Homo sapiens: one gene and its partners. The protein of the gene in region 1 purifies or fractionates together with the protein of each later gene. This does not show direct contact. Each region holds a gene or a part of one and is shown in the gene's direction. Other genes may lie near its edges.

Evidence for each region. The genes of interacting proteins can lie anywhere in the genome.
Region 2: the proteins of CROT (region 1) and EIF2AK4 purify together in Homo sapiens (affinity purification with mass spectrometry; 3 studies listed by BioGRID and IntAct, with this or other methods). This does not show direct contact.
Region 3: the proteins of CROT (region 1) and KLHDC4 purify together in Homo sapiens (affinity purification with mass spectrometry; 3 studies listed by BioGRID and IntAct, with this or other methods). This does not show direct contact.

Annotation. Positions count from the first base shown.
Region 1 is NC_000007.14:87,355,640-87,362,665, forward strand, and holds part of CROT (peroxisomal carnitine O-octanoyltransferase), read left to right. Parts: intron 1-1,867; coding exon of another isoform or gene 1,868-1,951; intron 1,952-3,566; coding exon 3,567-3,691; coding exon of another isoform or gene 3,692-3,715; exon of another isoform or gene 3,716-4,415; intron 4,416-5,750; coding exon 5,751-5,932; intron 5,933-6,088; coding exon 6,089-6,213; intron 6,214-7,026. UniProt on the Homo sapiens protein: Beta-oxidation of fatty acids. The highest activity concerns the C6 to C10 chain length substrate. Converts the end product of pristanic acid beta oxidation, 4,8-dimethylnonanoyl-CoA, to its corresponding carnitine ester.
Region 2 is NC_000015.10:39,965,102-39,972,127, forward strand, and holds part of EIF2AK4 (eIF-2-alpha kinase GCN2), read left to right. Parts: intron 1-584; coding exon 585-742; intron 743-2,242; coding exon 2,243-2,778; intron 2,779-7,026. UniProt on the Homo sapiens protein: Metabolic-stress sensing protein kinase that phosphorylates the alpha subunit of eukaryotic translation initiation factor 2 (EIF2S1/eIF-2-alpha) in response to low amino acid availability.
Region 3 is NC_000016.10:87,755,974-87,762,999, reverse strand, and holds part of KLHDC4 (kelch domain-containing protein 4), read left to right. Parts: intron 1-959; coding exon 960-1,051; intron 1,052-6,520; exon of another isoform or gene 6,521-6,522; coding exon 6,523-6,601; exon of another isoform or gene 6,602-6,606; intron 6,607-7,026.

The DNA of each region.
Region 1 (7,026 bases):
CAGGGCGACATGTGTCACTAGCGAGACACAGACAGCAAATAACAGCCGATTAAGAAACAGTAGGTACTGACAAATACAACTCTGAGACTCAAATAGGTTATCCAACTCTGGGTGGGGCCTCTAACCTCAACCTGGGGAATATGAGTATTCCTGTGTCTCCTGGGGCCTAGAAGGCTGAGTATATTGCAAAGTATATTGCAGAAAGGAAAAGGGACAACAAAGGGAATGGAAGAGACAACAAAGAGCACTCACCTATACATGAATCCAAAAACTTAGGAAGCAAGAAACCTAGAACTATTTGTCAGATGTTAGCATTTTATAGATAAAATCATTCCACAATTTTATTTTATTTTATTTTTCTGAGATGAGATCTCACTGTTACCCAGGCTGGAGTGCAGTGGTGTAGTCACAGGTCACTGCAGCCTTGACCTCCCCAGCTCAGGTGATCCTCCAACCTCAGCCTCCTGAGTAGCTGAGACTGCAGGCAGGTGCCACCATGCCCTGCTAATTTTTGTATCTTTTGTAGAGATGGGGTTTCACCATGTTGCCCAGGCTGCCAACATTTTAGAAACATGTTTCCCATATTATAAACATTTCTTAATTGGAAATGACTCAGATATCCAGTGAGTCATGCCAGGAAAGCCATAGACCAAAATTTTGGGTAAAGTAGTCTTCATGAAAGTTTGAGGGTTTTTTATTTTTGTTTTTGTTTGTTTGTTTTGCCTTTTCACATTTTGTTTTTCAGTTTCAAATGAGTTTCTAACATGTACATTTCTTTTACAGTTCTGGTTGAACTGTACAAGAAAAACAAAATCTCTAAGTAACCTAAACATCAAGTTTTATTTCAATACTAGTAGACTAATAATAACAGATTCAAATCAGGCAGAAAAGAAGAGAAAAATAGAGAGCTTTAGAAGACTCTGTTTAATTTCATAGTTGCAGGGCAAAAGTAACCACCAGAATGATAACAGGCTGAAGCTTCAGATAAGAGAATGAGACTCCAGGTTTCCACAGGGGGCAAGCAGATAAAGATTGCTGCCTGTTTTAACATGGGGTGTAAAAGCATCTGAGTCCTGCAATGTTTAAGATATAGCAAGAACAGGCTGGGCACAGTGGCTCACGTCTGTAATCCCAGTACTTTGGGAGGCCAAAGTGGGCAGATCACCTGAGGTCAGGATTCAAGACCAGCTTGGCCAAGATGGTGAAACCTTGTCTCTACTAAAAATACAAAAATTAGCTGGGCGTGGTGGTGGGCACCTGTAATTCTAGCTACTTGGGAGGCTGAGGCAGGAGAATCGCCTGAACCTGGGAGGCGGAGGTTGCTGTGAGCCAAGATTGCACCATTGCACTCCAGCCTGGGTGATAGAGCGAGACTCTGTCTCAAAATATATATATCAAGAACAAATCTTGTAAGTCCTCAGGTTCCCCATGCTATCCTGAGACATGACAAAGCAAACGAAAAGGTGACAGTCAGAAGGCAAGTGTGGAAAGTGAATGCAGTAAACCTCTGGGCTGGCCATAGGGGCCACTGTAAAGCTGCAGTAAAGCAAAGGCAACAAGTTGGGAAGTGATGAGAAGTATAGCTTTCCCATATCTGGCAAAGGGGACAAAGTGGATTAGTCCAAAGCATATACTGGCGTACATCTTGCAAGGCTACTTTAATTTTTATTATACCCCAGGGACTCTCACCCCATTGGGCTGGGACTCTAACCCAAATATTATACCCTAGAGACTCTAACCCCATTGGGCTAGAAATATTATCCTTGATAGGATGCCAAGACAGACCCCATTTATCAGAGGTGGCCAATTAGTGCTGTGCAGGCTGAATCTCCTCAGCATGGGATCTCATCCTAATGTCCCTTTGTAGTCACCAGAACATGCTACCAGATAAGGGGTCTTGATCCAGATGCTAAGAGAGGGTTCTTGGATCTCACGCGGGAAGGAATTCAAGGTGAGTTGCAGAGTGCAGTGAGAAGAGACAGCTTATTGAAAGCTACTCCATTGCGGAGTAGAGCGTCCTCAGAGGGCAAGCAAAGGAAGGCACCATCCTTATTTTAAGTTTTTCTTATATAGAGCCTTTATCTATGTAAAGACTAAACTAAGCTACGTCTACATGTGGGTGAGCAGACAACATGACACAATTTATTATTCTATTGATTTAAATAAAACTATCCTTGACATTTTAGTGTGTAAATACATCCAAACATAACTGTAATTATCTTGAAAACATATATTGTTATGGGTATTGGGATACCTGGACTTTCTGCTGTTTAGGAGTGTGTCCTTGTAGGTATCTGTAGGCTGTTCACTCAACTGTAAATATCTTCTTAATGTGGGTCATGACCAGCAAGGAATTGTGCCTTGTTAGTCTCCAGATGGAGCTGAAATTAAAACGGCATTACTCTGGCTCTCCTAAGCTCCTGCTTCCTTAACAACACTGTTAGAAGTTGAAGGTTTAATTGCTTCTTTATCTAGACTTGTAATAAAGTATAGGTGACTCTTGAACAATGCAGGGCTGGTGGTGCTGACCCATGTGTATTAGAAAATCCAAGTACAGGCCGTGCGCAGTGCCTCACGCCTGTAATCCTAGCACTTTGGGAGGCGGAGGCAGGTAGATCACGAGGTCAGGAGATCGAGACCATCCTGGCTAACACAGTGAAACCCCGTCTCTACTAAAAATACAAAAAAAAAAAAGAGCCAGGAGTGGTGGCGGGCGCCTGTATTCCCAGCTACTCGGGAGGCTGAGGCAGGAGAATGGTGTGAACCCAGGAGGCGGAGCTTGCAGTGAGCTGAGATTACGCCACTGCACTCCAGCCTGGGCGACAGAGCGAGACTCCATCTCAAAAAAAAAAAAAAAAAAAGAAAAGAAATTCAAGTACAACTTTATAACGTAAACAGTTGATTAACAGATAATTTTATGTTATATGTATTATTTTCTGAATTATTTAAGTTAGAGTAAAGCAAATGTTATTAAAAAATGATAAGGAAGAGAAAAATATATTTATTATCCATTAAGTGGAAGTAGATCATCATAAAAATCTTCATCCTGATGGTTTTCATGTTGAGTAGGTGGAGGAAGAGGAGGGACTGGTCTTGCTGTCTCAGAGGTGGTAGAGGAGGTGGAAGTAGGGACAGGAGAGGCAAGCACACTCATTATCAACTTTTATTAGGTATAAATGGACCTGTGCAGTTCAAACTCGTGTTGTTCGAGTCAACCATGTCCTTAAAATATCCAACTTTTTTTCTCTCTTTATGTTAATTTTTCCAGAGTTTGAAAAGCCAGATAGTGTAAATAGGCTTGTGATGAAAAATGCAGTCCTTTGCCCATCTCCCTGGCTCCCTCCCGACTTGCTAATCCCATTCTCTCAAGCAAGGATTTCCAAATCTTTTGTTTCTTTTCCGCCACTTTCATGTTGTCAACTCTTAATTTTATTGTTCTGCTCTGCTATTTAATACAGTACTGTGTTTTACATATCTGAGTCTTAAGATTTGCATAAGTTAGTAATAATAGAGGTGAGTTGGTGGTACTTGGTCTAAATACCTTAATACGTATTTTTCCTTTCTAGTGAAACCATTTGCAAATCAAGAAGAATATAAGAAAACTGAAGAAATAGTTCAAAAATTTCAAAGTGGGATTGGAGAAAAATTGCACCAGAAATTGCTTGAAAGAGCAAAAGGAAAAAGAAATTGGGTATTTGTTGTTATAATTGAATAATGATGATGTTTAAAGAATGATAAATAAAAAGTGCATAGTTTTTATTTTTAAATTATTGCTGTAAAAATTTTTACAGTTATTATTGTTATTTTCATAATCCAAAAGAAGGAATGAATCACTTAACTTTGGGAGTTTTCAGTGGGTGGATTCGGGAACTTGTTAAAATGCAGATTTGCTGGGATAAGTGATTCTGATTCACATGGCTGGAATGAGGCCCAGAGATTCTTATTTTAACAATCACTTCATGTGGTTTGGCTGCAGGTAATCTGTAGACCATGCTGAAGGAAAACATTTTGTCCAGGTGACTAGCTTGAAAAATCAGAAACACTAAAATAGACATGTCACATAGGTGGCATAGAAATATTTTCGTAGTACAATGGAGAAAGGGAATCATTAAAAATCAGAGTGGAGAATGGTTATGTATATTGTATATTTCAGTTAGATAAATTGAGGAAGCTAGTATAATAATTATTGAAGGTCTCAATAATTTTCCACAAAATTCTTTAACTTCTTCAGCTCAACCATTTCTGTACTTCTCTACTATGAATCAGAGGATGAGGTTGTATAATTCAAAAGCATTGCCTTAGTCTAGAAATAATTATTGTACCTATCATTTAGTTTTAGAAATAAAAAGCAAGCTGATTTTTTTTGATGAACCATTTATATCTGTGATGGAATAATAAAATTTCACACTTCCGGATTCCTTTGTTCTCAATTTTGAGCCTTGAGTTGTTTTAATTAAAGAGGGGTAAAGGTAAAGAAGTTGTTGTTTTATCTGTATCTTTTTTGTTTATGTCTCTTTCTGAATTACTAATTATAGTTTATAACATCACTTTCTTCAAACAAGACTCCAGGTAATTTGATAAGATGTGCTTACTTATGCATGGAATTCAATTGCATATTGTGAAAGAGGGACACATAGAAAACAGTGTCTGTGAAAAATCTAAATTACTTTGAAGCCTACTGAAAACTTTTATTTATTTGTTTTATTTATTTATTTTTTGGAGACAGAGTCTTGCTCTGTTGCCCAGGCTTAAGTGCAGTGGTGCAGTCTCGGCTCACTGCAACCTCTGCCTCCTGGGTTCAAGCTATTCTCATGCCTCAGTCTCCCATGCACCTGGAATTGCAGGTGCGCACCACCACACCCAACTGATTTTTGTATTTTTTGTAGAGATAGGGTTTTGCCATGTTGGCCAGGCTGGTCTCAAATTCCTGGCCTCAAGTGATCTGCCTGCCTCCGCCTCCCAAAGTGCTGGGATTACAGGTGTGAGCCACTATGCCCAGCCAGTTTTTATATTTCTGATTTAGTATTGCAGTTTTTGTTTGGAAAAGGAAAATTGTTAATGCCTTAATAACTGTTATTATTAGGTAAGGATTTATTGATTATCTATTATGCCCCAAGTACTCTGAAGAAACACCTATGTACTTTATTGCATACTTGTGACTACAATACAATGATATTTCTGAAGGTATCTTTTGGTGCTTTCTTGATACTCGTTTTTGATAGTGTAGTTAAAACAAATAATACCTAAGATCCTATAGCTCCCCGCTGAAAAGAAATTATCACAATAACATTTCTCAATATCTATGATGATTTAAAACAAGAAAACATGTTTTTATTTATTTATTTTTGAGACAGGGTCTTTCTCTGTCACCAAGGCTGGAGTGCAGTGGTGCAATCATAGCTCACTGCAGCCTTGAACTCCTGGGCTCAGGTGGTCCTCCTGCCTCAGCCTCTTGAGTAGCTAAGACTACATGCAGGCCCAGCTAATTAATTTTTTTTTTTTTTGTAGAGACAGGGTCTTTCTATGTTGCCCAGGCTGGCCTCTAGGTCCTGGACTCAAGTGATCCTCCCACCTTGGCCTCCCAAAGTGCTGGGATTATAGGTGTGAGTCACCTCACCCAGCCAAAAAACATGTTTTTAAATGTTGAAGAATAATTAAAGAACAAATATAGCTTGCTTTTTAAAATTCCCAGTAGTTACACATTCATGTATTATGAAGAACATTAAGCTGATGTTCTCAATTTCTTTTAGCTGGAAGAGTGGTGGCTGAATGTTGCCTATCTGGATGTTCGTATACCATCACAATTGAATGTCAACTTTGCGGGTCCTGCAGCTCATTTTGAACACTACTGGCCTCCAAAGGAAGGGACTCAATTAGAAAGAGGAAGTATAACTCTTTGGCATAACTTGAACTACTGGCAGCTATTAAGAAAGTAAGGACACATGTGAATTTAGTGACAGGCTTACCTGAAGTCTCAGGTAGCAAAATGTTGAGAAGCTTAATTTACTTATTTGGGGATGAACACTTCAGTTGTGGCTGGTTTTTAAATTTTATAATGACTTTTTGATCAAAATCCTTTTTTTAATAGAGAAAAAGTGCCTGTTCATAAAGTTGGAAATACTCCTCTAGATATGAATCAATTCCGAATGCTATTTTCTACCTGCAAGGTTCCAGGAATTACTAGAGACTCCATTATGAATTATTTTAGGACTGGTAAGTAAAAATGCAGATATCGTTTTTAGTAAAGGCACTGGAATTTGGGTAGCCTACTATGACGTGATGGAACATACACTTTTGAAGAATATTACTGTTGGGACTTTGACAAAGAAAGGTTTTCTGTGAGCCTTATATTTGAATCATTCTGATTAGATGTAATTTATGGGAACGGATTTTCTAAATGTATCTTACATGGTTCAACACAAACCTGATGCTTATATTTCATCATTTGAAAGTTTAAAGTTTACTTGAAGAGTAGAATCAGAGTATTAAGAAAATCCTGAAACATGAAACATATGATCTGGATGCTTCTCTTTCTACCCTCATTTTTTATTACCTGAATTGTCTTTTTGAGTGTTTACTTATATGTGCTTATCATGCCACAGTCTCCCTGTGAGTCTGCTTGTCCCTCCACCTTATATGAGGTAAAAGCCTGGAGTCACTCTTCCTTTTTTTTTTTTTTTTTTTGTTTGAGACAGGGTCTCACTCTGTTGCCCAGGTTGCGACCTCAGCTCACTGCAACCTCCACCTCCTGGGCACAAGTGGTCTTCCTGCCTCAGCCTCCTGAGTGGCTGGGACTATAGGCAGGCACTGCCATACCTGGCTAATTGTGTATTTTTTGTAGAGATGGAGTTTCACCATGATGCCCAGGCTAGTCTCAAACTCCTGGGCTCAAGCAGTCTGTCCGCCTCAGCCTCCAGAAGTGCTGAGATTACAGGCATGGGCCACCATGCCCGGCTTGGAGTCACTCTTCTTAGAGACACATGAGTTCAGATTGACTCATCAATTTTTTTTTTTAAACTGGCAGTT
Region 2 (7,026 bases), on another chromosome or scaffold:
GGCTAGTAGCATAAAACACTGGCCTCTTTTGTTTTTTGAGACAGAGTCTTGCTCTTGTCGCCCAGGCTGGAGTGCAATGGTGCGTTGTAGGCTCACTGCAACCTCCGCCTCCCAGGTTCAAGCGATTCTCCTGCCTCAGCCTCCCAAGTAGCTGAGACTCCAAGTGCCCGCCACCAAACCTGGCTAATTTTTTTGTATTTTTAGTAGCGACGGGGTTTCACCATGTTGTCCAGGCTGGTCTCGAACTCCTGACCTCAGGTGATCCATCTGCCTTGGCCTTCCAAAATGCTGGGATTACAGGCGTGAGCCACCACGCCTGGCCAAACATTGGTCTCTTTATTTGCCTGATACTAAGATCTCATTGTAGATTCTTGCCCCTTATAAAAAATTATTTTAGGACTCAGGTATATTGCTAAATATCAAAAATTGTTTACAAAAGGACATTATTACATAAAGTCCTATTTTCCATAGTTAGCGCATGGTATCCATTGTTGAACTAAAGAATGTGTATTACCCCCTCCCTTCCTTCCCCCAAGAGAAAACATACCAGTGGGATTTAATTACACTTTCTGTTTAATGTGCAGGCAGTGATGAACAACTTGGAAAATTAGTCTACAATGCTTTGGAAACAGCCACTGGTGGCTTTGTCTTGTTGTATGAGTGGGTCCTTCAGTGGCAGAAAAAAATGGGTCCATTCCTTACCAGTCAAGAAAAAGAGAAGATTGATAAGTGCAAAAAGCAGGTAAGCATCCAAGGTGGCTGACTGAGCAAAAGGCCTAATCTCAGGCTTTAGGAGATGACAGAACAAAATAGCCCTGCATTTGTTTGCCCTGCAGAGATGGTCCAGAGCAGTATGAGAACTGTTTGACCAGGGAGGACAGTGAAGGACCAGTACCTCTTTGCCCCTTGCCTCTGGTTTCAGAACTTTCACAACATGATCAAAGCACTTCCAGCTGCCTTCTTAACCTCCTTTCTTAGCCCTTAGTATGGCATTAACAGTCATCTTTCCAACTGGGACTAAATACTAGTTCATAATTGGGTTTTTTTGCAATTCTTCTTTTCCCTACTCTTGAAATATTGCTTCAGGGCTGGGTGTAGTGACTCATACCTGTAATCCCAGCACTTTGGGAGGCCAAGGTAGGAGGACTACTTGAGCCCAGGAGGTTGAGACCAGTCTGGGCAACATGGTGAAACCCTGTCTCTACAAAAAATTTAAAAATCTGTGGGCATGGTGGCACATACTTGTGGTCCCAGCTGCTTGGGAGGCTGAGGTGGGATAATTGCTTGAGCCCGGGAGGCTGAGGTGGGATAATTGCTTGAGCCCAGGAGGTTGAGGCTGCAGTGAGCTGTGTTCATGCCACTGAACTGCAACCTGGGTGATAGAGCAAGACCCTGTCTCCAAAAAAAAAAAAAGAAAAGAAAAATACTGCTTCAAAACTGAATTTTGGGGGACCGGAGGATTTTTAAGTTAATTTATAAATTATGATTTATAACCAAGCATAAGGAGAACATTCAGTATTGCATATTGCAGTGTTACATAATAACAAGGTTTACAAAAACGTAGATAAAGCATGGTGTTCAGAAATGTGTGTGTATTTAAGTATAGAAAGAAAACTGAAAGTAAATGTGCCAAAATCTTGAGTTATCACTGGGTGGTGACCACATAGATAACATGTGGGTATTTTCTATCAAACTAATTTTTTAAATGTTGACAATGATCTTTATTAAATCAGAAAAGATTTTTTTTTTCTGTCTTCAACCTTAACTCCTCTTTGCCATGTGAGGTTCTGAGGATTAGGATGTGGCCATTATTCTGCTGCTCAAATCATATACTATATTTTTAAAAACCCAAATACAAAGCTAATCAGAAAAGGTTATTTTTAAATTAAAGTTTGTTTTTTCTAGTGGCTATACCTCAAAAGAATTTTATTTTAAAAACTGTTCACTAATTTTGTAGTATATGCATAGTAGGTTTTGAGATTAGAGAAGTTGAGAATTAGCTAAATTTTTTCCATCTTTATGAACTATTAGATTGACCATATGGTTTGGGGAGGATTCAGTTTAGGGCATATTTGTTCTCCTCTCATTTGAAAGTATATTTTCTATCAAATACTTCACTTTTGGTTTTGGTTTTGTTTTTTTATGCCCCCATCTTGTATGATCAAATACTTCACTTTTGAAATGAAACCCAAGTTAATGTTGACTGGCCCAATATTCTTTTTTTTTTTTTTTAACTTATCAGATTCAAGGAACAGAAACAGAATTCAACTCACTGGTAAAATTGAGCCATCCAAATGTAGTACGCTACCTTGCAATGAATCTCAAAGAGCAAGACGACTCCATCGTGGTGGACATTTTAGTGGAGCACATTAGTGGGGTCTCTCTTGCTGCACACCTGAGCCACTCAGGCCCCATCCCTGTGCATCAGCTTCGCAGGTACACAGCTCAGCTCCTGTCAGGCCTTGATTATCTGCACAGCAATTCTGTGGTGCATAAGGTCCTGAGTGCATCTAATGTCTTGGTGGATGCAGAAGGCACCGTCAAGATTACGGACTATAGCATTTCTAAGCGCCTCGCAGACATTTGCAAGGAGGATGTGTTTGAGCAAACCCGAGTTCGTTTTAGTGACAATGCTCTGCCTTATAAAACGGGGAAGAAAGGAGATGTTTGGCGTCTTGGCCTTCTGCTGCTGTCCCTCAGCCAAGGACAGGAATGTGGAGAGTACCCTGTGACCATCCCTAGTGACTTACCAGCTGACTTTCAAGATTTTCTAAAGAAGTGAGTATCACTGAGATTCTCTCTAATAGCACTTTACTCCTGTACTTTTGATTGTGCTGGAGTGTGCCAGACATCTAAGTGATGTGGAAGCTGAGAAGTGAGGAACAGGACTTCATTCTTTGCTCTCCCAATCCTGTCCTAGTCTCATATGTTCTGTTTTCTCATGTAGGTTGGTGATTCTCTTAACTACCACATTCTCTGAAATTCACTTGGAATTCACACTTGATTTTCAAACTCCTTTTGGGGGACTGATGGGATACTCTTGGAAGTCAATAGAGATGGTTATGGTGAGAAATGCCCTAGGTATTCCAAATACTGACCTTTGCTCTGGTTCCTAAAGGGTCAAAGACGAGGCTCCTTATTCAAAAACAGCTTTGGGAGTGAGATTCTGCCCCTTGTGCTTCTTAACCATTCTTCATTGGCTGTCTCATTCATTTAAGTTGTAGAATGCAAATAACTTCCTTAGTCTAGCCAGAGGAGTTTCAATACCTGTAAATCACAGGTGCATGTTTAATTACAAAGCCAAGTTTTATCCAATTTGGGAGAACCCTTCTTGAGATGTTTCCTCAGGCCTAAGATGTTTGTCCAGGTCCTTCACTTAAGTGTTTTCTAATTTCGTCCTGCCTCTGTTTTCAGTCCAAGCCAGAGCTAAGTTCTGTCAGTTTCTGTTAAATGGGAGATAAGATCCCTTCAGTCTGGATTTTTCCAGATGCTCCTCTGGTCCAGCTATCCTGCAGGAGTTGACCTGGGCTGGTTTCTTCCCTTTCTGACACTCTTTGTTTTTTACCTTCTTTTTCCCAATCATTTGCTTTTATTCACTTCTTCCATTTGCAACATTTCTTTTACCCTTCACATTTCTTTCCCTATTCCACCTATCGCAGTAGCCAGTTGGCCTGGTTTACATTGTTATGCTCTGTCACTGATGGTCTTACCATTACAGATGTGAAAGTAGCTGCACCTGTGTTTGAGATTGTTTTTGTGTAAAGTGAATATGATATATATATATATATATACACACACATACATACAGTTGTGGAAAGGGGCCAAGTTTGATTCTTTATGTTGGTTTCTCGCCTTGAAGTATATGAAAATATTAAGATTTCTAAAGAAATCTTTTATGGTATCTTTTTAATGCAATGGAGCTTTAAACATATTTATTTAAATGCACCCTAACAATGAGGTTGGCCAAAATGACAAATATGATGATAGAATCACAGATGGAAAGTTTCATTTCCATCTTCAAAATGTCACCTTTAGTGTTCTGCCTTCTTCATTGATGAAGAGTAATTTAGTCAAGGTTAGCAATAGCATCATGTGTTGTTAAAAACAGTACTGGGAGGTTTAAGTAGAAGTACCTTTCCTTTCCCGTTTAGTAGCAAAATGAATGGGCTCGGTAGGTAAAACTTTCCTAGTTCTCTTCTTAAATAGCTGTATGCTCTGTCAGTTTTAAACTTGAGATCAGCACAATTTCTTATTCTTTTTTTTTTTTTTTTTTTTTTGAGATGGAGTCTGGCTGTGTCGCCCAGGCTGGAGTGCAGTGGTACGATCTCAGCTTCCTGCAAGCTCCGCCTCCCAGGTTCACGCCATTCTCCTGCCTCAGCCTCCTGAGTAGCTGGGTCTACAGGCGCCCGCTACTACACCCGGCTAATGTTTTGTATTTTTAGTAGAGACAGGGTTTCACCATGTTAGCCAGGATGGTCTCAATCTCCTGACCTCGTGATCCGCCCACCTCGGCCTCCCAAAGTGCTGGGATTACAGGCGTGAGCCATAGCGCATGGCCTTCTTATTCTTTTAACAAGATTTTTCTTTAGACTATTTTGTATACTTCTCTCCCTGGAGTGGTTTGATAGACTGTGCTTGGTTAAGGAGCTGCCAAGAACTGTTTTTATGAACTTTGCTGTCCAGCCCTGGTTAACAAAAGAAAAATGCCATTCACAAAGAATGAAAACAGCAACCTTCCATTTGTAGTTATATTTTTACATATTAGTGAACACCCTTTGGAGCAAGATTTTGTTTCAAATCAGCCTCTGTGATGGGTAAGACTCTGGAGTCAAAACATCTGGGTTCAGGTCTCACCTCTATGTCCTACTGGCTGAGTGAATTAACCCCCTGCCCTGCGTTTCCTCCTCTGTGAAACTGGGATAATAGCACTGCCTACCTCATGAGGTGGTTGTGAGGATTAAATTAGTTAACAGCCATAAAGTGCCTGGCACTTGGCCCAGACTGAGTCAGTGCTGGTTTTCATCACCATCCTCAGTAGTGAGAACTATGAAGAAATGTGGGTGTTGCCAGGCATTTTATCCCTTTTTGTTCAAAGCTGAACCTTTTCTATATACGGCTACCCTGTTGCCAAAATTATTGATTCAGAGAAGTTCATTTTTAAAGTGAGATCTTGGTGGCTATAAATCTCTTAAAAATACTGTGCATTCTAGGTAGGCTGTAACATTTTTCTGATCCAGATTTACTTTCAAGTCAATAACATTTATGTCACAGTTGAGTTACAGTTGATAACGCAATTCAGAAACCCAACAGGGCATATATAGGGATGCTCATTGCAGCATTTTGTGAAAATGTGAAAAATTGGAAATAATCTCAACAGTAGGAGAATGTGTAAATAAATTCTGGTAGGTCCACGCCTATACAGAAGTTTAAAAAAAATCTTTAAGTACTGGCTTAGAAAGAGCTCCAAGACACATGGTGGAATGAAAAAAGCAAGCTGAAGAATAATGTATATAAGATGATATTGCTTAAAAAAATCAAAAAACAATACTATTTTGTTTGGATGGTTGTATGTTTATGTGTATAAATGCATAGAAAAATCTCTACAATGAGACACCCTAAGTGGAAGAAAGAATTGGAAGGGGAGGTTGGTCAAAGGCTTTATCATTATCAGTAATGTTTTAATATTTGCAAGGAGAAGGTATATATGTTTTAATGATATAATTAAAAAGTAATTTTAAATTTAAAGGAAAATACGGTATCTTATACAAATGGTTTTATTAGAATTTTTTTGCCTGTTCAAGCTATGAAATTAGGAGTACCTTGCTTTTTACTGCTGCAACATAAAAAAAAGTTACCATTTATGATAGTTGCTGTCACCACTTTGTATGTATAGATTTTTAAGTCCAGAACTCACAACGACAGTTGATTCTTTTAAGTATATTGTTTTAATTATAGGTCAAGTGCTACCAAGTCGTACTACTTGGGCCGTTGTAATGAAAGTAGCTTGGCATGGTGGTTCATGCCTGTAATCCCAGCATTGCAGGAGGCCTAGGTGAGAGTATCTCTTGAGTCCAGGAGTTCAAGACCTGCCTGGGCAACATAGTAAGACCTCATCTCTACTTTTTTAAGTATTCCAGCACAGCAGGGCGTGATACCTCACACCTGTAATCCCAGCACTTTGGGAGGCTGAGGCAGGCAGATCACTTGAGGTCAGGAGTTCAAGACCAGCCTGGCCAACATGGCAAAACCCCATATCTACTAAAAAGACAAAAATTAGCCATGCATGGTGACACTCACCTGTAATCCCAGCTACTTGAGAGCCTGAAGCAGGAGAATCGCTTGAACCTGGGAGGTAGAGGTTGCAGGTTGCAGTGAGCCAAGATAGTGCCACTGCACTCCAGCCTGGGCAAGAGAGCAAGACTTCGTCTCATAATAAAATAAAATAAAATGAAAATAAATAAACAAAACATTCCAGCATGGTGGTACACGCCTGTAGTCCCAGTTACTCAGGAGGCTGAGGCAAGAGGATGCTTTGAGTCTAGGAGTTCGAGGCTGCCATGAGTGATGATCGCAACACTGCTTTCCAGCTTGGGTGACAGAGCAAAACCTTATCTCAAAAAAAAAAATTAAAATTAAAAAAAAAGGCCAGCTTAAATCAGTTACAGTTTAACTACTTAGACTTTAACTTAGACTTTAGCTTGCATTGAAATCATTTGGAGCTCTTGTTAAAGCACAGATCACTGTCCAAACCTCCAGAGATGCTGATTTACTAGGTCAGGGGTATAGTAGAATTTGTATTTCTAACATTTTTTAGGGGATACTGATGCTACTGGCCAGGGACCCCACTTTGAGAAGCCCTGGGTTAAAGGTATGGCTTGTTTTTCTTCATTAAAAAACAAAACAAGAATTGTCTATTACACCATTAAACAGTAAGTTAATGGGTTCAAGGAATGAAGATTAAAAGAAAGTATATGAGGCCGGGCACGGTGGCTCACGCCTGTAATCCCAGCACTTTGGGAGGCCGAG
Region 3 (7,026 bases), on another chromosome or scaffold:
AGGCTGAGGGAACCTGGCGTTTTCATTGAAGGAACGGAGAGGACGCTGGTGTATCTTGGAGAGTGAGGCCAGGTGGGAGGTGAGGTTGGAGAGGTGGGTGTGGGGGAGGGAAGATGGTCTGCAGGTGTGTGTAGTTGCAAGCAGGACACTGAAGGCTAGAAGGAACTTGAAATGCCAGGCTCGGGTGTGCATGGGAGTGTCTCGTAAATGTTGGGAAATGGGCACTGGGACTGAGGCGGGAACACTGGGTTCCAGTGCTGCCCTCTGTGCTGGCACATCAGTACCTTGAGTCACTCTCGATGGTAGTAAAAGTTGAGACCTTCTTACTTGGATAGACTGCAGCTGGTATTTGCTGAGCTCTTGCTGTGCAGGCAGTGTTTTAACTAGACACAAGTCTTGCTCTGGTGGAGCTCATATTTTATTATTTTGTTGGGGTGGAGGAAACAAATAAGCAAGAGAAATATATCAGACACTGCTCAGCAGACAGGAAGGCAGGCAGGCGTGACGGCCCAGGCCTGGGCTCTGAGAGGTGCTGAGGGTGTCTGCAGTGAAGTCACGATGGGCTTGTCTAAGTGGAAGTTCTTGTCAGACACTGCTCTGCAGACAGGAAGGCTGGCAGGTGCGACGGCTCGAGTCTGGGTTATGAGAGGTGCTGAGAGTGTCTGCAGTGAAGTCACAACGGGCTTGTCTAAGTGGAAGGTCTTGCAGAGGGAGCGTTAAGGGTGTGGAGATAATACTTGGTGCACACATCTACCCTTTAAGCAGACTGCCTTTGAGGTCAAGCTCTGGTTACTTTCGAATGTGTCAAACTCTGCATTTCAAACAGGCACAGTATGTTGCAATTCACAGATGTGACTGAGCCCAGTCGAATCACACTGATTGGAGGAAAGCTGAGCGGGCTGTGGCTCCGCGGCGGGTCCTGGGAATAAGTCTCACGTGTGCCTGCTTGCTTGCCCTAGGAAGACCTGGAAGCGCTCATAGCCCATTTCCAGACACTCGATGCCAAGAGGACTCAGACTGTGGAACTTCCGTGCCCCCCACCCTCACCAAGGTGAGCAAGTAGCATTTTTCATATTGTATGTTTCCTTTTCTTCTATACATTGAAAAACTGCTTTAAATAGCACCAGGTTTCGTAAATGACCAGGCACTTGGGACATTTTCATTATTAAAACCTGTTCTTGGTCACTTTCTGCTGAAGAACTGGAATGAGGCTGTAAGCTTTACTGTCATGGAACCTGGGAGCAGGGCCTACAGCACAGCTGCTGCCTCTGGGCTCCGGTGCCAACTTTGAAAGCTCCTCCACTGGTCGTGACGTGGGGATGAAAGTTTTGCCCCAGTGAGCTTTTCTTTGGTTCTTAAGGTATTTTAAAAGTGCGTACTGTAGGCAGAAAGCTGAAAATCACTGTGGCCTTTTGATGTGTTTGTAATGCTTTCAAATTCTCATGTGAAAAGTTTGTTAAACATAAATTGAGTATAAGCCATTTTAAATGGATTTGAAAATTACGTAAAAACGTTCCGAGTCTGTAGGATTTCATACACGTGTGGGATGAGCTGGAATGAGAAATGGTTTATTTCCCTCAGTAGGAGATTAACCTTGCAGGATTTACCCTTTTAATAAAGCTGCTGCAGGCCCTAGTGGAAGCCGGGGTTCAGCCCATCGGGAGTGGAGGGTCACGATTGTGCTGCGTTTGCATTAATGAGGCGCATGTGATGGCTCTGGTGCCCGAGTCCCACCCACCGGCCTCAGAGGCAGGGTTATCATCACCTGCCCAGAGGTGGGAGGAGCACGGTGATCAGCCCCTGAGCAGAGTGAGTGGTGTTGGAGCCACTCCCAAAGGCCAGTGTCCTTCCTGGTTTTCACTTCATGTCCATTAGGATTTTAGTTTTCTTTTTCCCTTTAGTTTGCATGTTGCCCTCAGGGCCAAATGTAAGTTACATGTGGTAAATGTACTTTTTTTTTTCTTTTTGAGATGGAGTCTCACTCTGTCATCCAGGCTGGAGTACAGTGGCATGATCTTGGCTCACTACAACCTCTGCCTCCCAGGTTCAAGTGATTCTCCTGCCTCAGCCTTCCAAGTAGCTGGGATTACAGGCGCCAGCCACCATACCCAGCTAATTTTTGTATTTTTAGTAGAGATGGGGTTTTGCCATGTTGGCCTGGCTGGTCGTGAACTCCTGACCTTAGGTAATCCACCTGCCTTGGCCTCCCAAAGTGCTGGGATTACAGGCGTGAGTCGCTGTGCCTGGCTGTAAATGTACATTTTCATTTGAGTTATTGGAGCAAATAAATCCTTGATCTTAGGCTTCTGATATATAGCACTCCTGAGGAAAGCCACTTTGAATGGGGATTAGTTTTATTTTTTTTGTAGAGACTTTTTTTTTTTTTTTTTTTTGGGACGGAGTCTCACTCTGTCACCCAGGCTGGAGTACAGTGGCGCCATCTTGGTTCACTGCAAGCTCTGCCTCCCGGGTTCACGCCATTCTCCTGCCTCAGCCTGCCAAGTAGCTGGGACTACAGGCACCCGCCACCAAGCCTGGCTAATTTTTTGTGTTTTTAGTAGAGACGGGGTTTCACCATGTTGGCCAGGATGGTCTTGATCTTCTGACCTCGTGATCCGCCCGCCTCAGCCTCCCAGAGTGCTAGGATTACAGGCGTGAGCCACCGTGCCCGGCCCTGTAGAGACTTTTTTTTATGTTGTCCAGGCTGGTCTCGAGTTCCTGGGCTCAAGTCACCGTACCTGGCCTTTTTCTTTTTTTTTTTTTTTAATGATATTTTAGAATTTTTCCATAAGTAATGTTGCCTGAAAGTCAGATTTCATGTCAGGATATAATTTAAGGTGTTGGCAGTTCCCTGGGTCAGCTGGAAATGCTTCCTAATAGGAGGGAGCAGTTATCCTGAGATTAAGATCTTTTGCTTGGTAACCTTAATATCTTCCAACTTCCTATTTCTTAATCATATTACTTTAAAACCTTGTGAGAATGACCAGTTTCTAAATGAGCATATCGTCAGGATTGGCTCTGATGTGACCTACCTGGAAAATGGGGGCATGACACCAGCTGCCTCAGTACCTCACCTGCCTGTGCGGCGGCAACACCTGGGCTGGTGCCGCTGGTGGCTGGGTGGGGACCTCAGTTTGGGCCCCGTGTAGATCGTTTCTGAAGTTGTGTTTGGTGCTTTTCTGCAGAAAATCAATAGGTATTCAGTGAGAAAAGATTCAGGGTCAGAGGAATTTGGGAAACACTCTTTATTTTTTTTTCTGAGACGGAGTGTAGCTCTTGTTGCCCAGGCTGGAGTGCAATGGCACGATCTCGGCTCACTGTAGCCTCCTAGGTTCAAGTGATTCTCCTGCCTCAGCCTCCGGAGTAGCTGGGACAATAGGCATGCACCACCACGCCCGGCTAATTTTGTATTTTTAGTAGAGACGGAGTTTCTCCGTGTTGGTCAGGCTGGTCTTGAACTCCCGACCTTAGGTGATCCACCCACCTCGGCCTCCCAAAGTGCTGGGATTACAGGCGTGAGCCACTGTACCCGGCCTATTTATTATTTTTAAAAAGTTTTTTTTTTTCTTTTTTTCTTTTCTGAGACGGAGTTTTGCTTTTGTTGCCCAGGCTGGAGTGCTATGGCGCGATCTCAGCTCACTGCAACCTCTGGAGTCAGGCTGGCCTCAAATTCCTGACCTCAGATGATCCAACTGCCTTGGCCTCCCAAAATGCTGTGATTACAGGTGTGAGCCACTGCACCCGACCTAAAAAGTTTTTTTTATTGTGGTAAAATGTTTAACAAAATTTGCCATTTTATTTTATTTTTGTTTGGTTTTGGTTTTTTTGAGACAGAGTTTTGCTCTTGTTGCCCAGGCTGGAGTGCAATGGTATGATATCGGCTCACCGCAACCTCCACCTCCCAGGTTCAAGCAATTCTTCCTCAGCCTCCCAAGTAGCTGGGATTACAGGCATGCGCCACCATGCCTGGCTAATTTTGTATTTTTAGTAGAGATGGGGTTTCCTCATGCTGGCCAGACTGGTCTCGAACTCCCCACCTCAGGTGATCCGCCCGCCTCGGCCTCCGAAAGTGCTGGGATTACAGGCATGAGCCAATGCGCCTGGCCAAAATTTGCCATTTTAATCATTAAAACTGTGCAGTTCAGTGGAATTACTTCATGTCGCTGTGCAACCATTAGCACTAACCAGTTGCAACATTGTTTTATCACCCCAAATAGAAACTCTAGACCAACCTTGTCTAACTGGTGGCCCAGGACAGCTTCGAATGCAGCGTGACACGTATTTGTAAACTTTCTTAAAACATGATGAGATTTTTTTTTAAAGCTCATCAGCTATTGTTAGTGTTAGTGTATTTTATGCGTGGCCCGAGACAATTCTTCTTCCATTGTAGCCCAGGGAAGCCAAAAGATGGGAGAAGTGTCTAGACCCTTCAATGGTTGCTCCCTGTTTCCCCTCCCCCAGCCCCCTGGTGACTTCTGGTCAACTTTCTGTCACTGTGAATTGGCCTATTCTAGGTATTTTGCGTAAGTGGAGTCATAGAAGTGTCTTTTTGTGACTGACTTCCTTCACCTGGTATGTCCAAGTTCATCAGTTCTGTGGCATGTGTGAGAACTTTATTTCTTCTTATGGCTAAATCCTGTTCCGTCTGTGGGTATGCCACATTGTGTTTGTCCACTCATCTGCAGACCAACACTTAGGTTATTTCTACTGTTTGGCTTTTGTGAGGCCGTAACGAGCATTGCATACAGGTATCTGTTTGAGCTAATGCCTGGGAACGAACTGCTGGATTATGTGGTGATTCTGTGTTTAGCTTTTAATACTGGTTTCTTTCCTGCAGAAATTCCCAGCCTATGACATGTTTCTATGCAAATAAATCCCCAATAGAAAATAGAGTTCTCAGATTTCCCAAACTCACTTGACCTTGAAACCTGTTTTTCCTTTGAGAAACATCTTTTGGAGTTGGCATTATGGAGCACGCCTTGGGGAACGCCGTCTTAGAGGACTCTGAAGGGAGGATCTTTCCCAGTGATTCGCCAGATAGTCACTGTGTCTTTCATTACTTTCAACTGAAGTGGCCCTATGTATTTATTTATTTATTTTTTGTTTTTTTAAGACAGTCTTGCTCTGTCTCCCAGGATGGAGTGCAATGATGCAATCCTGGCTCACTGCAGCCTCTGCCTCCCGGGTTCAAGTGATCCTCCTGCCTCAGCCTCCTGAGTAGCTGGGATTACAGGTGCCCACCACCATGCCTGGCTACTTTTTGTATTTTTAGTAGAGACGGGGGGTTTCACCGTGTTTGCCAGGCTGGTCTTGAACTCCTCACCTCAGGTGATCTGCCCGCCTCAGCCTCCCAAAGTGCTGGGATTACAAGTGTGAGCCACCGGGCCTGGCCCATAATATTATTATGTAATTTCCTTGTAGCTCTTCTTTTGTTCTCATGTGAAATAAATAGAAAGTTGTTTGTATTTTCTAGATGGAAGATATCTGGCATGTATATTGAAGTACTTACATATGGACTTTTTTTTTTTTTTTTCAGATGGAATCTTGCTCTGTCGCCAGGCTGGAGTGCAATGGCATGATCTCAGCTCACTGCAACCCCCAACTCCCAGGTTCAAGTGGTTCTCCTGCCTCAGCCTCCCGAGTAGCTGGGACCATAGGCACGCACCACCATGCCCAGCTAATTTTTCTATTTTTAGTTGAGACGGGGTTTCGCCATGTTGGCTAGGATGGTCTCGATCTCTTCACCTCGTGATCTGCCTGCCTCGGCCTCCCAAAGTGCTGGGATTACAGGCAGGAGCCACTGCTCCTGGCCTAGTTACTGGACTTTTTAGAATGGTTTTGAGGTGATTTGACAGGATAGGCTCTTAAAAGAGGACAGTTCTGAGGTCCAGGCACGGTGGCTCACACCTGTAATCCCAGCACTGTGGGAGGCCGAGGTGGGCAGATCACTTGAGGTCCGGAGTTTGAGACCAGCCTGGCCAATGCAGTGAAACCCCATCTCTACTAAAAAATACAAAAACTAGCTGGGTGTGGTGGTGGGCACCTGCAATCCCAGCCACTCGGAGGGCTGAGGCAGGAGAATTGCTTGAACCCAGGAGTTGGAGGTTGTGGTGAGCTGAGATTGTGCCATTGCACTCCAGCCTGGGTGACAAGAGGGAAACTCCATCTCAAAAATGAAAAAAAACAAATCAAAAAAACAGTTCTGGAACATTTGATACATCAGTAGGGGCATCTGGACTTATTCCTGCCTGGGGAATTTTTTTTTTTTTTTTTTTTTTGTTAATACAACCAGACACTGTGTCAGTCCAGCTCCATGGTTGTCCTTGGAGTGTGGCCCTGGGCACTGGTAGAGGGGTTGGTGTTCAAGTGGCACCTTTGCTTCCTTTCTCGATGCCAGGCTCTCCTTTCAGGAAGTGTAGAGGCAGCCAGTTTGTGGTGACAGAGGATTCTGTGAGGAAGGGGACAGCGCTCAGGTGGGTATCGGGGGTGATCTTGCTGACCTGCCGCTTGTGTGTCTTGTAGGTTAAATGCCTCCCTCTCGGTTCATCCTGAGAAAGATGAGTTAATCCTTTTTGGAGGTGAATATTTCAACGGCCAAAAAGTAAAGTATATATTTTTTTCTTTTCTTCCCATGTTGCGTGAGTATCATTTGACAGAAAGTTAACTTAAGGCAGTGACATCAAATATGCGTTAGCCCCTTCACCCCTTGTATCACGCGCTTGAGCCGTCAGGCCTGATGTGAGACGTCGCCAGGATGCTCCAGGCCCTGGCATGACTGTTGATGACTTCAGTGGTCCTGGGGTCTCTATTCCTGGGACTTAGGCTGAGGCCCAGCTCTGCCGTCATCACTCTTGGCGGGCGCACCCCTCTTTGTGGTTGTCTGTGCTGTTCTTCCTCCCAGCGGGTTTCCAGGTTTCACACTCAGCTTTCAGGTTGTCTTAAACACGGAAAGTGCTGATAAATTTTAGGGCTAATTTTTATTTTTGAGCAGGCCAGTAAGACCTGTGTTTCACAATTGTGTGTGAC